2 separate regions of the Homo sapiens genome follow, and region 2 is linked to region 1. Evidence: fine-mapped expression QTL. Tissue or cell type: whole blood. Region 1 holds a variant in brackets; the other region holds the start of a gene. All regions are shown on one strand. Distances are from middle to middle.

Evidence for each region. PIP is the estimated chance that this variant, and not a neighbour inherited with it, causes the effect.
Region 2: GPR35 starts here. The variant in region 1 is fine-mapped to the expression of GPR35 in whole blood (TOPMed, PIP 0.95).

What each region holds. Positions count from the first base shown.
Region 1 is chr2:240,597,035-240,605,370 of GRCh38, reverse strand. CAPN10 (calpain 10) reads right to left here. Exons shown (of 12, transcript NM_023083.4): 10 at 7,284-7,483; 11 at 6,974-7,019; 12 at 6,267-6,720. The coding sequence ends at 6,691. Among named protein-coding and RNA genes, the nearest start is that of CAPN10, 14 kb to the right of the region's middle. The variant C/G (reference allele first, on the strand shown) is at 4,925.
Region 2 is chr2:240,622,180-240,630,198 of GRCh38, reverse strand. It overlaps GPR35 (G protein-coupled receptor 35), which reads right to left and starts at 4,719. Exons shown (of 2, transcript NM_005301.5): 1 at 4,631-4,719; 2 at 1-250. The coding sequence starts at 246. RefSeq lists a silencer at 1-87 and enhancers at 4,259-4,765, 5,373-5,522.

The DNA.
Region 1 (8,336 bases):
TCTCATGGGACACACCCAGTCCTGCCCGTCCGGATCTGCCAGGGCCACCCTTTGTCCCTTCCCACCATGGTGGGGAGACGGTCTTCAGCCCACATGCCCCACTCTGCAGGCCCACAGTACCGCCAGGGACCCCACAGCCCTGGACCCCATGGAAAGGCCAGGCCCTGCCTTCAAGCATTCCGGAGAGTTCTGGGTGCCTTGCCAGGGCTGGCGTTGGGGAGACAGGATTTTATTTTTCAGGGTGGCTCTCATTTGCTAGGACACAGGCCACTGGGGACCCAGCATTTGTGTAAGAGATGGGCCCTTCTATAGATGACACATTTATGTCCCCGAAATTCACATACTGAAGTCCTCATCCCCAAGGTGAGGAATGAAAAGGTGGGGACCTCTGGTAGGTGATGAGGTCATGAAGGCAGAGGCGTCACGAATGGGATGAGTGCCCACATAAAACGGGCCCCAGGGAGTTCCTTTGCCCTTCCACCACATCAGGACACAGAGAGAAGGTGCTGTCTCTGGACCAGGAAGCAGGTCCTCACCAGGCACCAGGTCTTCCAGTGCCTCAATCTTGGACTTGCAGCCTCCAGAACAAAGAGCAACGCATTTCCACTGTTTACGAGCTGCCCAGGCTATGGTGCTTTGTTACAGCAGCCCAAAGGAACTCAAAGAGGGGCCCCACCAAGGAACTCAGGCAGGTGCAATGCCAGAAGAGCCAGTAAATCTTACAGGGGTGAGGAAACTCTTTGGCTTTCTCTATTTTCACGTAAACCAGCAGCCTTGCGGCAAAACGAGTGGTCAATAGGAGACTGAGTGACTGCTTGGCAGACAGCCAAGAGAGGCCGGAGAGGGCAGGAAGTGCTGGACAGTGGCTCCCAGCTCCAGAGCACCCCTAGAGGCCCCTGGGTGACACAGGCAGGGGAGCCTCACGGAGATCCAGGAGCAGGCATGCTGGAGGTGGTGCTGATTACAAGCTTGCTGATGGTCAGGCAGCGCTATCAGCTCTGAGGCTGAGAGGGGACTGAGGGTTTCTAGATGGCCTTCACCCTCAAGCAGAGCTGTGCGAGGAGCCGATCCAGGCTGGCTGCAGCCGCTGCAGAGTCCACCCCAGCAGACGCTGAGAGAGAAATGTCACTGGGTGGCCTGTGGCCACTGGCCCAGAAAGCAGGAAAAGTCCCACAGTGCCTCACCCCTGCTTGCCTTCCTTCCCTCCTGACACCCCAGGTGTCTCCCCCAAGCCGCCAGGCCAAGGGCGCTTCTCCCCGCAGGTGTTCCCAGGGTTATGGTCTACACAGCCACTGCTGAGAGGGTGCAGCCAGCAAGGAGTAAATACGCTGGCCAGCAGGTGTGAGCCGGGGCGGTAGCCCCAAGGGAAGGCCCATGGCTGGGCTGTGGGCAGCGTTCTTGGGGGCAGCCTTGTCCAGGGATGCCATGGGGTAGTCTGCCTGGGGAGGCTGAGCCAGGCAGGGCACAAAGACCAGGCGTTTCAGCCAGGTGGGGGCACCCCGGCCACCGACACTCCAGGCTTCTCCCTCACCAACCCCACCTCTTCCACCTTCCCTCCGAAATACCTTGCACCCAAATTCTATGTCTGCCTCTGCTTCTGGAGAATCCAACCCCCATTGGAGAAGAGAGTCACTAATTTGGGATTTGGAACTGGGTCACTCACGGCCCACGGGCAATGAGGACCCATCACTGGTCAGGGGAGATAGCTGGCGCCTGGCACAAGGTGGTCGTCCTGTCCAGTCCAGTTGTGAAACTGGTTCCAGTGTCCAGTGGGAAAGTTGGGGAAGGGGGTCTGCTGGGGGCCCCAGCTGCTGTTTGATGAATGAACAGACACGAGGGCCTCCAAGGAGGAAGCAAATAAGGCGCAGGTGGCTGAGGCCTCACTGAGGTGCCCTGGCTGGAGTTTGGAGAAGTTGGGCGGGGCGCAGCACTCCCAGCTCCTGATCAACACCTAGCCAAGGCCAAGGCCCCATCTGGAGAAACCAGGACCGTGGGCAGGGAGGAGGCAGTGCGTGGTGCCTGAAGGTTCCACTCTCCAGCCTCTTAGGAAGCTTCTGAGCCTGCACAGACGCGGCCCACCCCTCGCTCCACCCCCGTCAGGCCCTGGCCCCCCTTGGGTGCTAGGGCTCTGACCGAGTGAAGTGTCAGCAACATCCAGTGACCAGGGAGTGGGCTGCGGGCCCGGCCAGCTCGGGGCACAGGAGGGGGCTGCAGGCCCAGCCAGCTGGGGACGGGAGGCGGGAGCACTGGTAGGACTGGGTGCTGAGGCGCCTGATAGGGAAGCTGGAGACCTAACAGCAGTGTCCCGAGACACAGGTTTGACACCCTGGCAAGGCCCCTGGAGGTGGAGCAAACCTGGAGGTTCCTAGCGGCACAGGCAACACTTCCACTTTTGCTGGGCAGGGTAGAGATGCCACAACTGCTGTGGCTGGTGGAGGGTAGGCGTAGGCGTGTGTGGTGTGAGCTGCCAAGCACTGGTTCCCTGGGAAGACCAAGGTCACACCGCTCACCTGTGCCATGCTGGTTAATAGGGAGTGGCAGCTGTGCCGCAGGAGGCTGGCAGGAGTGGCGGCGGTGCCCCAGGAGCCTGGCGGGAGTGGCGGCGGTGCCCCAGGAGCCTGGAGGGAGTGGGCGGCGGTGCCCCAGGAGCCTGGCGGGAGTGGCCGGCGGTGCCCCAGGAGCCTGGCGGGAGTGGTGGCGGTGCCCCAGGAGCCTGGCGGGAGTGGCAGCGGTGCCACAGGAAGCTGGTGGCAGGAACCACCATCACTGGGTTTGGCTCGCCGGGGGCGGAGGGCATTAGACCTCTAAACAGCAGAGGCCAGGAGACAATCATGAACACGGCTGAAGGGCGCCAAGGGGCCTGCCTGCAGGGCTTACGGAATGGCAGCAGAGCAAGGCAGGGCTGCCAGCGAGGGCAGCGCTCAGGTGGAGCCGGCAGAGGGGTCCAGGAGGGCTGAGGGTGGTCACTCCGATAGAGCCCCAGTTGGGCCCACACTGCCCGAGTCGGTTTTCAGCCCAGGTATCTGCTGACTGAAGAGGTGGCCAGGCCTGCAAGATGAAGGACACTCCCCACATCAGCAAGTGTGCATGACAAGGACCTCCCCGGGGACTATGTGCACCAGGAAGAGAATATCCAGGCATCTGGGAGCCACTGAGCACACAGGCCCCAAGCTGATGCTGGTCCCCAAGAGTCACCAGGGCTCCATGACAGTGGGACACATCACAGGCAGTTAATAATGGAGTCCTGCCCAGGACCAGCTCACATGAGCCCACAGGGCCTACAGACCCACCCGGGGCCATGTCCCGGTCTCTGAGCCTGTGACTGGGATTGACACCTGGGGAGCGACCGATATCTCTGCTGCATCCTTGGGGTAGAGATGGCCGTGGGAAGGCCAAGAGGGACACTGGAAGGCCAAGACTGTCCCCTCCTGCCCGGGTCCCAGAGCAGCCGTGGCATGCGGAGAGAGGGTGGTGGCCCTGCTCTCTCCATTTGGTTCAGTGTGGCCCCGTGGGATGGGATTCCTGGAGGGCCACGTGGCGAGTGCACACACAGCCGAGGGGCAGCCCAGTGCAGCAGGTCCTGGAGGTCCAGGTACCCAGGGTTGGCCATCAACTGGACGAATACGCCACGGAAGATCAGAAGCTGCTCACATTTATATGAAATTTGTATGGAATGGACAAAGGCATTTGCTGTTTCTCCTGGGGCCTCTGCCGGAATACAGGACAGAGACCCCAGCTGGCCGGACACCCTGAAGAGCACCGCACTGATCCATGACCTTGGCAACAGGATGCTGATGGTGTCAGAGCAGGAGGCAGCCAGGGACAAACAACACCAGGCCGGGGCCTTCTGCACCAGAAATGTTTAGGTTGGCTGGGGGTTAGAGCCCTGCCAGACATCCCCTCCAACTGCATCTGGAACCTCCCATCAGAAGGAAGCACAAGGCCTCAGGGCTCTCCGCAGGCTTCGGAGGGAGCGTTTTCCACACCCAGGAACATGGTTCCAGCTGGTAGACCAAATGGCCAAAGCAGCCAGGTCGAGTGGAGCCAATCTACACTGGGGCGATGATGGGTGCCAACCATGGCCTCTAAAGTCACGGAACCCTGCGCTTTCGAGGCCTCCTCTCAGGCAGTAGCCTGGGACGCGGGAAGCAGGTCCTGGCTGTGGCCTTTGGGCAGAGCTGCCCAGCAGGAGGGTGTGGCCGCCACCTTCAGGGCCTGCCTCGGGGACAGTGGCTCCTGAGGGCCTGGGGGAAGGGATGCTCAACATAAGGGCCTGGCCAGCCCAGGTGGGGCCCTGCAGGCAGGGTTTGCTCCAGAACTCTTCACGGGGTCCCCACCAGTCTATCCTGACATGGACACAGTCCCTGCAACTGTCTTCCCTTCATAGGCACTGTGCCTGAGAAATACCTTGACCCCAACTGTCCCACCTCAACCTGCACCATCAGGCGCCCTGCACAGGACCTGTCCGCCCACAAACCCAGGGATCTAGGGCAGCTCCGACCCAGCTCAAGCCTCTGGCTTGGGCACTGCCCTGCGGGGTATTTCTTTGGTGAGCCGCCCCTCACTGTTCGCCCTGAGTTGCTGTACCCCAATAGGCGGCACCACTGGCTTCATCCGAAGTCAGCACAGAAGCCAGTGGATGAGGGAGATCTGTGGCAGGCTCTGCACGCAGGGAGATGGAGCCCCATCCTGCTGCTCAAGAATCCGTGTCTGAAGATGCCGAGAACCCAGCTGCCACAGCCACTGCTGCTGGAGGGCCATTGAACCAGCAAGCAGAGGGGCTCACGGGGCAGGCTCCAGGGCCAGGGCAGCTTCCTGTGGGTGAGTCAGGAGGGTGGCTTGGCGTGGCCAGGGCGTGGAGAGGGGGACAGCGGCACAGGTCCCAGTGGGAACAGACACCAGGACTCCAGAGATGGTCGTGATC[C/G]GGCAGCAAGGCCCAAATCAGGCTCACTGGGTGCTATGGTTTGAATTTGTGTTCCTGCCCAAATCTCATGTCGAATTATAATCCCCAGTGTTGGAGGAGCCTGGTGGGAGATGATTGGATCATGGGAGCGGATATCCCCCTTGCTGTTTTGGTGATAGTGAGTTCTCCTAAGATCTGGTCATTTAAAAGTGCACAGCACCTCCCCTTCGCTCTCTTCCTCCTTCTCCAGACACCTGCAGACTGCCTGCTTTCCCTCCGCCATGATTCTAAGTTTCCTGAGGCCTCCCCAGCCATGCTTCCTGTACAGTCTTCGGAACTGAGGCAATCAAACCTCTTTTCTTTATAAATTACCAGTCTCAGAGTTGTTTACAGCAATGTGAAAAAGGACCAATACACGGGGTCTCCCCAGGCACAAAGGGACTCAGGAAGCGAATGGAATTTAAAAGGGATTAGAGCTGGGGTTGGCGGTCATGCCTGCAATCTTAGTGCTTTGGGAGACCAAGGCAGGAGGATCACTGAGGCCAGCCTAGGCAACCACATACTAAGACCCCTAAGCATTCAAAACTTGAAAAAACTAACCAGGCATGGAGTGTGCGCCTGTTTTCCTACCCACCTGGGAGGCTGAAGAGGGAGGATCACCTGAGCCCAGAAGGTCGAGGCTGCAGTGAGCTATGATCATGCCACTGCACTCCAGCCTGAGCAACAGAGCAAGACCCTGTCTCTAAAACAAAAGGGCTTAGTGACAGCCCTCCCCACCCATGTCTGGAACTGTCTTCTGCACCGTTCAGTGACACTACAGCTCTCATCACAGCATTTGGTGTGAGGGACGAGGGAGAGAGGCCTGGGGAAATAAACAATCCTAGGACACTGCGCAGGTGAACCCTGGCTGGAGGCAGAGGAGCCGTCCAGATCCAAGGCTCCCAGTCCATGTGAACCTGGGGTTCCTCCCTCTGCGCAACTCCGGTTCTAACACCCGTTTCCGAGATGTCCTTCTTCGCCACAGCCTTGGCAGTGCCTTCGCTGGCTCTCCCCACCCCTCACTCCCCAGTCTATCAGTCTGTGTCCCCCAAGACCAGGGCTTGACCTGCCCCGGCCAGCCTCAACCTCAGCCCCCTGGCCTGGGGCATGCCCTGGGCCCGCCCCTCCAAACTTCTCCCCTCCTCCCCACTCACCATCTCCCCCTGAAACCTGCCCTGCCTGGGTTGGCTCTGCCCACCTCCCAGGCCCCCAGCCCCTCCAGAGGCCATCCTCATCCTCACCATCTCGGCAGGCACCCAGCCCTCCCCACAGCCTGCTTGGCAAGAGCAGGCACAGCCTGGAACTACCTGGAGCAAGACTGATCTGCAAATCATCAGCGCTCATGTTTATTTATAAAGTTACATCCTAAAAGTGATTCGAACAATAAATAGTTATAAAGAAGATCTGCTGCCCTACCCTCTGGGTGTGAGGCCTCCATATGGAGTCAGCAGAGGATCTGGGAGGGATCCTGGGAAGCTCTGGGATCCTGGGGTCTCTGCCGTCTCAGTGGCGCAACAGAAGCCAGCAAGCTTCCCACCCTTCCTTGCAGCACCAGCTGGCCCCCAGGGCTGCGTCTCTCCTGACGGAGGCTTCCCGTGGACCCCTAGGCCGCAGCCTCCTGGCAGGGCTGGGAGGCAGGCCAAGACTCAGGACCAGCCCCCACAGTGCAAGGCTGGCCGGCCCAGCTGCTGGGAACCTGTCAGGCCCTCGGGCTCCAGTCACCTGAGCTGGCACAGGGGGCCACCCTGTTAGGTTTTCATCACTGCCATGATGGAGACCTGCAAAGACAGATGGGGGGCCCGGGCAGCGGTGGCACTCGCCCCTTCTCACACCCCACCCCGAGTGCAGCCAGGGAATGGGACGCAGCCTCAGCTCCCCCTGCCCTTCAAGGCACCGCCCGGGGCTCTCACAGGAAGAGTCAAGGGCACCTCACGTCCCAGGCAGAAACCACCTGCCTGAGGTTGCAGGTAGACCCTAGGCCACCAGGCAGCCCCAGGCAGGTGAGCCGGGCTGGCGGGGCTGCATACACACCTCTTGGAGGAACTGGCCCAGCATCTCCTGGCTGTGAATGGATGGCCTGTGGAGAGACACCAGATCAGCGCTCCCAGACTGCACTTGTCACACAAGTGGCTGTGTGCTCCTGGCCCACCTCCCACTAGACTCTCCTTCCAGGCTCAGACCAGCAAGGAAGGGTCCCCAGGTAGGCAGGACAGCCCTGGTCTGCCAGGACAGATAGGGGCTTGAGGGTGAGGGGCAGGCAGGAGACGTGGGGGGACAGGCGAGCACTAAGACTCCAGCACCCCAGCCTCCAGCTGGCCGCCCCCAAGTCCCAGAGCCCCACCTGTCAATCCTGGTTGCGATGGTCACTGTGAAGGCCCCCTCTGTGTCCGGCAGGTAGGTGGAGGGCACAACCTTGTAGGTGCCCGCAGGCAGGAGGCAGAGCCGGCTCACCTCCTGGGCGTAGCGATGTGGCACGCAGCTCAGCAGCGGCTCCTGCAGCAGCAGTGGGGGTGCGTCCTGGCTCCTTCCACCCTCTGGGACCTGAGGAAAGCGCAGGCTCAGACTGAGGGGGCCAGCCTTGGGGTAGGGAGCCCAGCCCAGGGCCATCTGCTCGGATGCCCTTGGCCCTCTTGAGTCACATACAGCCCCTTCTCTGAGGAGGGGCTGCCAGGCCTGGACACTGGACTCGCCTCCTCACCAAGGCCTGGCCACCCTTGCCAGAAGGTGCCGGCAGTGGGGCCCCCGCCTGGAGGCCTGTCACATCATCAGGGGCTTTAACACCTGTGACTGCCCAGCCCGCCCCAAGGGCTCCCACTGGCCCTGGCATGTGTTTTCCTCAGAGCTCTAGGGGACCTGAGCCGGTGGCCCAGGGCAAACAGCGAGGGTCCAAGGGTCCCCAGGCAGCCCACTGTGAACCGAGGGTTGCAGTGCCTTCCTCGTCAGGGCCCCTGCATTCCAGGGGACACATGTCTGCAGAGAATGAACCTTGGGACACAGTCATTCTGAGTCAGGGTAAGTGGACAAGGGGCTGCTGGCTGAGCTCAGTGACTGTGGACTTCCTCACACCCGAGGGGCTGCTGTGGCCAGCCAGCCTGGGCCTCCCCTCCTCTCACTCCTGAGTCCATCAGCCCCCTGCGTTCCCAAGCCAGGGCTCGACCCACCCCCGCTGGTCTCAACCTCGGCCTCCTGTCCTCTCCAAACTTCTCCCTTCCTCCCCACTCACCACCTCCTCTGGAAACCTGCCCTGCCTGGATCAGCCCTGCCCACCTCCCAGGCCCCCGGCCCTTCCAGAGGCCATCTTCGGCCTTGCCTCTGAGAGGTTGGAGATGGGAGAGGGCCCTGTGCGGGTTCTAGGCAGCGCCTCGAAGGGCAGGGGGAGCCCAAGTGACTGAGC
Region 2 (8,019 bases), 25 kb before region 1:
GTCTCGCAGGGAGTGCAGCACGAAGGGCAAGGTGCACAGCAGGCAGAGGTCGGCCACCGCCAGGTTGGTCATGTAGATGCGGGTCTCCGTCCACTGCTGCATGCGGCAGCAGAACACCCAGAGCGCCAGGCTGTTGAGCAGCAGGCCTAGCACCAGCAGGACGCCCAAGTAGGCGTAGAAGCCCAGCTTGATCGCTGGGGGCCAGGTGAGGTCGCTGGAGCCACAGGTGTTGTAGGTGCCATTCATGGTCCTGGGGCAGCACAGGGAGCCGGAGGTCAGCAGAGAGTGAGCAGGGGGAGCAAGGCACTGCCCCCACTCTGCCCACCTCTGGGCAGGGATGTGGGAGGAGGTGAGCCCCGACCCCACACCCACAAACACAAAACTCCTCAAAGAAAGCATGGGTGCCGTAAAGAACTCCAAGTCACCCTTGAGGTCTAACCCCTGGACAGATCCTCTTCCCATCTCCTGAGCTCTTCTCTCCTGGGATCTGCCTGCTGTCATGGGGCAGGAAAGGAGGCAGAAGGAGCTCCACGTTCCCCTCCAGTCCCCAGCCCAGCAAGCCCTACCCTCCAGAGCGCAAATCCTGGACAGGGAGCCCAAAGGGCCACCAGCCTTACCCAGCACACAGCTCTTAGCAGGGAGGGCTCAGAGGCAGCAGCACCTGTCAGCCCAAGGACGGGAAGACCAGGCTCCCGGACAAAGCCCAGGGTGGCCCCTCCACCCCTCCTGGCACCCGGCTGCAGGAGGCACCCACATTTGACTCCACACCTGCATCAGCCCTTCCCCACAGCAGAGTCCAGGACAGCTGGGACTCTGGCCTGCCCCTACCTCCCTGTGAGCCCACCCACCCAGTCCTGAGCTCTGGAGGTCCTGCCTGCATCAGCCTGAGGCCCCATCCCAGTCCCACACCTGGGATCAGGGATTCACCCCTTGAGCTCCCAGGGGCCAGAGCCTGTGACGGCAGCCCTGCCCCTTCAGGCCCAGTCGTGCTGCTCAGGGGCCGCCCAGGGGTGGAGCTGAGTATCCTCCTCTCCGTCACTATCAGGACCACCCACAAAGTCACCCCTCCACTGTCCACGCCAGCCTCTCGCTGTCCCCAACACCCTCCGCGACATAGCCCAGGAAGGCTGAGACCAGCCCCGGCTGGACCTGGGCAGGGTCTGGTGTCCAGGACACGGGCTAGAGTCATCCTGACTCGGCCACCCCTGCAGCTGGGCAAACTTGTTTCCTCATCATAAGGGGTGCTGGTGTCACACGCAGGCAGGTGTGAGACGGAGCTGCTGGTGAGCGCCCAGAGTCCAGGACTCACAGCCACACGTCCCACCACCTGGGTTACTCAGTGGGTCCAGGAAGAACCCGGAGGGGTGAGGGCGGGAGAAGCCTCTCCCCCAACCATCAGGCTGTCCTCTGGGGCATCCTGCAGTGGCTTCCTGCTGGGCTGGTATGGAAGGTGGGAAGGACTCAGCCCACAGCGAAGGGCCTTCCTCCTCCCTCTGCCTCCTCCCTCTGCCCAGAGGAGCACAAAAGGTCCCCCAAATCAGGAGGGGAGAGCGCCCAAACCCCGTGACTGCAGCTGCTGGGGACCATTAGTGCTGGGACGCATTTCCCCACGGTGGTCCCCGGGAACTCCAGGTCCCCAGTCCATGAGGGATGGAGGGCACAGGTTTCAGACAGAAACGAAACATTCTGCCCCCTGGCTTCATTCTGTCTCCTTAGATCCCACCTCTGGTGAAGTACAGCAGATATTTGCTGACTTCCAAGTTTCAGGAGCCCTTCCCCCGAGTGCAAAGTGCTGCACGCCCAGTGGTCTCTCTCCTCCCTTCTTGAGGGTCCTGCTTGCTTTCTCTCTGATTCATGAGCAACACTTCACCCTCGTTCCAGGGACTTTTGGAGGGACCCTGAGCCAGGCCAGGCTCCGAGGACATCCCCAGAACCCACTGGAACCAATCGCTGGGATCTTCCCTTCCTGTTGGGCCTATACTCCTGTGGCAGCCCCCGCTGGGGGCCAGGAGATCCCAGAACCTGCTCAGAATCTACACCTCAGAGGCACCTGAGCTGGGCAGGCACTGTGCGTTGGGGAGGGCTCCGTGCGACTGGCCTCCTACTCTCCCCACCTGAGTACTTGAATCCACCAGAAGTCCAGGGCCAGCCTTGGGCGGTGTGCAGACCTGGAGGGGGAGGGGGTCTGCACAGCTAGAGGGCGATTCTTTTGCTGCCCCACCTTGAGTAGAGGCAGCCTGGGACCCTGCCTCGTGGGAGGTGAGGACCCGAGGGCTCGTGTGCCTAGACCCCTTCCCATTGCCCCAGCTTCCCCCATCGCTCCCCATGGCTGCCAAGGGGCTCTCAGGTCACACATACCCAGGGCTGCAACTTTCATACTAGCCTCGGTGTGGCCCAGTATTTTGTGGGGGAATGTTTAACTGCAGGCAGGCACGGTGGCTCATGCCTGTAATCCCAACACTTTGGGAGGCTGAGACAGGAGGATGACTTGAGGCCAGAAGTTTAAGAACAACCTGGGCATCACAGGGAGACCCCGTCTCTACAAAAAAAAAAAAAAAAAAAAAAAAAAAGACAGAAAATTAGCTGGGCTGGTGATGCGTGCTACTCGGGAGGCTGAGGCAGGAAGACGGCTTGAGCCCAGGAGGTTGAGGCTGAAGTGAGCTATGATCCCACCACTGCACTCCAGCCTTAGGAGACAGAGTGAAACCCCATCTCTAAGAAGAAGAAAAAAACTCTAACTACAACATTTAAATTTTCCTGTTTATAATAAAACAAACACTGAACTATTAGGGAGAAAAATGCAAATGTTGCAAGAGTTTCGAGGTGCACGTAGGCTTCGAAGAAGTGCCCTGTTCATGGGTCCTTGTCTCGCCCGTGGAGTGCCTCCCAGAAAAGTTCAGGAAATCAAGGCCCAGGCTTTAGCCCAGATGGCATGGGGCCCCTGGGAGCTAACATGGCCAGCACAGATGCCCACCTACTGCCCCAGTCCCGCACAGGAATCTGTGTCCAGGCCGTGGACCGTAGCTGGCCTCCCGCCTCAGCTCCTCAGGCCTGTCTTCCTCGACAGACACCAGCACCATCAGCCTCAGGGAGCTCCCGCTGCCGGGGACCGTGGGGATGGGGCCCTTCCACTTCCTGCCCAGGAGGCTTTGGGGATTGGAGCCAGCAGCACGCCTCTGAGGCCCCGCTTCCCCTTCTGATGACAAGGTCACCCTCGGCTTCTGCACACAAAAGCAGAAAAGTGCCCTTTGATTCTGCACTGAGTGATCCAGGAGAGAAACCTGGCCATAGACGGGCGATCCAGCCACACCAGAGCCCCTCCCCAGCCCTTCCCCCTGTCTGGACCCGGGACCCGCCCAGACCCCAGAGTGCCTGGCTGGCCTGGGATTGAGACCACAGGCCCCAACCACTGCTGAAGACGTGGGGGCACGCAGTGAGGTGCAGATCCCTGTGGCCCAGGCACCAGAGTCCCCCGTACCTGTGACCCCACTGGGCCTGGGCCCCACACAGCACACCACACCCCAGGACCCAGGATGGGGCTGTGAGTGACACGAGTTCACCAAAGTAGCTGCTCACCTCGGGGCCACAGCACGGGGTATTCTTCATTCTTGTTTTTAAATGTCACATCCCACACTCCAACAAGCTGCTACCCAGACACAGGCTCCAAGTCTTCATCAGCCTCAGCCACCCCTGAGACCCCAACAGCCTCAGCCCACCTGAGACCCCAACACAGCCTCACCTCACTGAGACTCCCCATCACAGCCTCACCCCACTCTGAGACCCCATCACAGCCTCACCCCACTCTGAGACCCCATCAGAGCCTCACCCCACTCTGAGACCCCGTCACAGCCTCACCCCACTCTGAGACCCCGTCACAGCCTCACCCCGCTCTGAGACCCCATCACAGCCTCACCCCGCTCTGAGACCCCCATCACAGCCTCACCCCACTCTGAGACCCCCATCACAGCCTCACCCCACTCTGAGACCCCGTCACAGCCTCACCCCGCTCTGAGACCCCATCACAGCCTCACCCCGCTCTGAGACCCCCATCACAGCCTCACCCCGCTCTGAGACCCCCATCACAGCCTCACCCCGCTCTGAGACCCCGTCACAGCCTCACCCCACTCTGAGACCCCCATCACAGCCTCACCCCACTCTGAGACCCCATCACAGCCTCACCCCACTCTGAGACCCCATCACAGCCTCACCCTGCTCTGAGAACCCATCACAGCCTCACCCTGCTCTGAGAACCCATCACAGCCTCACCCCACTCTGAGACCCCATCAGAGCCTCACCCCACTCTGAGACCCCCATCACAGCCTCACCCCACTCTGAGACACCCATCACAGCCTCACCCCACTCTGAGACACCCATCACAGCCTCACCCCACTCTGAGACCCCATCACAGCCTCACCCTGCTCTGAGACCCCCATCACAGCCTCACCCCGCTCTGAGACCCTGTCACAGCCTCACCTCGCTCTGAGAACCCCCGTCACAGCCTCACCCCACTCTGAGACCCCATCATAGCCTCACCCTGCTCTGAGACCCCATCACAGCCTCACCCCACTCTGAGACCCCCACCATGCCCCTGCCCCGCTGGGAGGCCCCTAGGGCAGTGGGCGGCACTGACCTGCAGGCAGCTTTGGCCTCCCGGGTGGAGTGTGTGACCCCCGCTGCCAAAGCCTGCACAGTGGCTGTCTGAGAAGGGCTGGGGGAAGTGAAGCTGGGGTGAGCCACCCCTCAGGGCTGGTCCCTGACTCTGCCCCTCCTTAAGGTGGGGGGGCGGGCGGCTGACTGACGGCAGCAGGTCAGGGGTAACAGGAGTTCCCCACTGCTCCTGCACCAGCCCCAGCTAGAGGGCGTGGGGGATTTCTGGGAGGGAAGTGGGGTGCCGGCTGCCTGTGCTGACACCTCTGAAGAGCCAGCATCCTTGCTGAGGGCACACATTTGTTCTGGAAACAGCGTGAGAGACAGACAGCAAAACCAGAGACGCTCCAGCCCCGCCCACGGAGCCTTCCTCCTCCCCAGCCCACTTCTGCCCTGTCATCTCGGAAACCTTCCCAGGGCCCAGCCCTCCCAGGGTCTGCGGTCAGCTCGCCCTCCCCAGCGCCTCATGCCCAGCCCCAAGACAGGGTGCAGCACGCACACTCATCCTGGTTCATGCAGACACGCTCCGTGGGCGCCTTCCAATACACACACACACGCTGGCACACATGCACACACACATGCACACGCCAATGCACACAGGTGAGAGGCACACGCAGGCAGGCTGGCTCCTCCCCTGCTTCCCCCCGACTTGGCCACCGGCCCCTCCTCCAAGCCCACCCCCTCAGAAGCCTACCCAGACCACCCCTATCTGGTCTAGAATATTCTCCCTGGCCCCCAACTCCTCAGCGGACATCTTCCTTCTGAGCTCATGGTGGGGGAGCCCGTAGGCCCAGGCTGCGCCCCCATGGTGCAGAGCACCCCCTTCCTGGGCCCTGTCCACCCTGAGGGCAGGAGCCTCGTCTCCTCAACGTGGGCCCCACAGCCCCTGACCACAGCCTCTCCCTCCTCAACGGCTGGGATAGGCTGGGGAGAGCTTCAGTTTCACCCCTCCCCACTTTACAGCGGTGGAAACGGACGCCCAGGGAAGGGAAGCGCTTGGCCCAGCGTCACACAGGTGGTGGCAGGTCTGAGACCAGTGCCTGGGCCTCCTGAGCCAGACCAGGGCTCTCTACCCAGAGGCACGTGAGGAAGCCCTGGCTGGGCATTGGTCCTTCTCTGCTGTCATCCCGGGCCTGGTTCCTGTCCCTTTCTTCCTGCTTCCTCCTGCTGTCCTTCCTGCCCTTCCTCCTGCTTCCCCGGCTGTCCCTCCAGGCCCAGTCCCCAGTGTGCGCCCTTGGGTTCCCTGCCCAGTCTCCATGGGCCATGATGTTCATTGGAGAGGGGCCTCATCCTCGGGCAGGAGGCTCAGATTTGGGATTTCATCCATCCCTCACTCTGGCCACAGGGTCTGGCCTCTGGGGTCAGCAGAAGGCACGGCACCTGATCAGTCCAAGCCCGGCCGCCGTCAAGCAGGGACTGGAGGTGCAGGGCACGGCATCTCCCAGGAGTGCTCCTTCCACCTCTGGCAGATCAGATGGTGCCCCAAGCAGGCCTACCCAGCCCACCAGAGCCAGGGCCCTGCAGAGCTCCCCCACCCCCCCCACCACCAGGCCAGCCATGAACTCCACCGTGCCCCCTCTGCTGGGCATCACTCCTCCCCAGCAGTGGCCTGGGGCACCCCGTCCCCACCAGGCCTGGCCTCCCTGACGTGGCCTGGCACCTGTGCTCCTCACACACTGGAAGGGAAGCCCCACTGGGCAGGGCCACATGGTCCCAGCGGATTCTTCTGGGCTGTGTGGACTTGGGGAAGAAACTGGACATTTAGAGACTCTGACTGTCTCTGGGAAGGGCCCCTTGCCACCAGGTTCCACCTGTGTACAGGAAACGCTGTCCCCAGCCCACCCCCTACCTCTCTCCATCTGCCCCTTGGCTGTCTCCGCAGGCACTTCAGGGCAGTCCCACCCAGCCTGGAGCCTGGGCCCTCGTGCTCTGCCCCCTCCCACTCAGGCAGGCCTTGCCCGGGCCCCTCCAGAGCGCTGTTTCTCTCCTAGCTCCCCGCTCACCCCCAGGGCCCCTCTCTCCCCAAAGCTGCACCCTCACGACCTGTTTGCACCCTCACGACCTGTTTGCGCCCTCACGACCTGTTTGCACCCTCACGACCTGTTTGCGCCCTCACGACCTGTTTGCGCCCTCACGATCTGTTTGCGCCCTCACGACCTGTTTGCGCCCTCACGACCTGTTTGCGCCCTCACGACCTGTTTGCGCCCTCACGACCTGTTTGCGCCCTCACGACCTGTTTGCGCCCTCATGACCTGTTTCCAGCCCTTCACCCTGTTTGATTTTATCACAGAACTTATTTTTTAAGTAACCCTTTCTGCGCACTGGGCTTGTGCTTGTGGGACTCTATCTGCTTCCTGCCCTGTCGGGGCCCTGGCACAGAGCCCGGCCTCTGTGAAGCTCGACGACCGCTCACCCACAGCGACTCCGGCCGCGGGGCTGCGAGTGCCGGGGACATATCAGGTGCTCAGTCGTCGTCGGCGCCCGGCTCAGGCACGGTCGCCTGGGGTCCTCTGCTGCTGCTCAGGCCCTTCTTCGAGGACACCCGGAGTCCCCAGGTTCGAGAGGCCAGATGGCAGGTTTCCAGTCCAGGCCAGGCCTGTTCTCTCCCTGCTGGGCAGCTTCAGACCACCTGGCCCTCTGCGGAGAACTGGCAGCCAGGGTCCTGCTGTGGGCACGGGGGCACTGCCCGGGGCCCTCCGCCCCCAGCCTCTGCTCCTGGGCAGCTTCCTCTCCGAGGCTGCCCCCTCACCCCCAAGGTTAGCCCCCTGCAGCAGCGCCAGCCCCTCCCACTTCACCCCGCTGGGCTGTATGTGTGACGCGAGGAGCTCCGAACAGGATTCCTTCCTGCCCCTCCTCCTGCTTCTCCAGCTAGAGCTGCCGGACGCCACCCCTGCAGCCCTATCTAGGGGAGCCTCTGCAGCAAGCTTGTCCAACACTCGGGCTGCGGGCTTTGAATGTGGCCCAACACAAATTTGTAAACTTTCTTAAAACATTATGAGATTTACGCAGAGACCTTTTTTTGCTCATCAGCTATCGTGAGTGTTAGTGTATTTCATGTTTGGCCCAAGGCAATTCTTCTTATTCCAATGCGGCCCGGGGAAGCCAAAAGATTGGACAGCCCTGCTTTGAAGGGAAGTCTGTGAGGCGATGTCAGGGAAGCAGGAGCCTGGGAGAGCCAGAGAAAAGCCGTTTACGTTCAGCTCCACCTTGAGACCAATGAGGCACATACCTGCCAGCCACAGCCCATGGTCATACGATGTTTACAGCTAAAGCAGCAGCCAGTGACGCCTGCGTGGACACACTTCTATGACAGCAAAGTGTCCAAGTGCCCTGGTATCCAGAACAATATATGCTTTCCAGACAACTACCCTT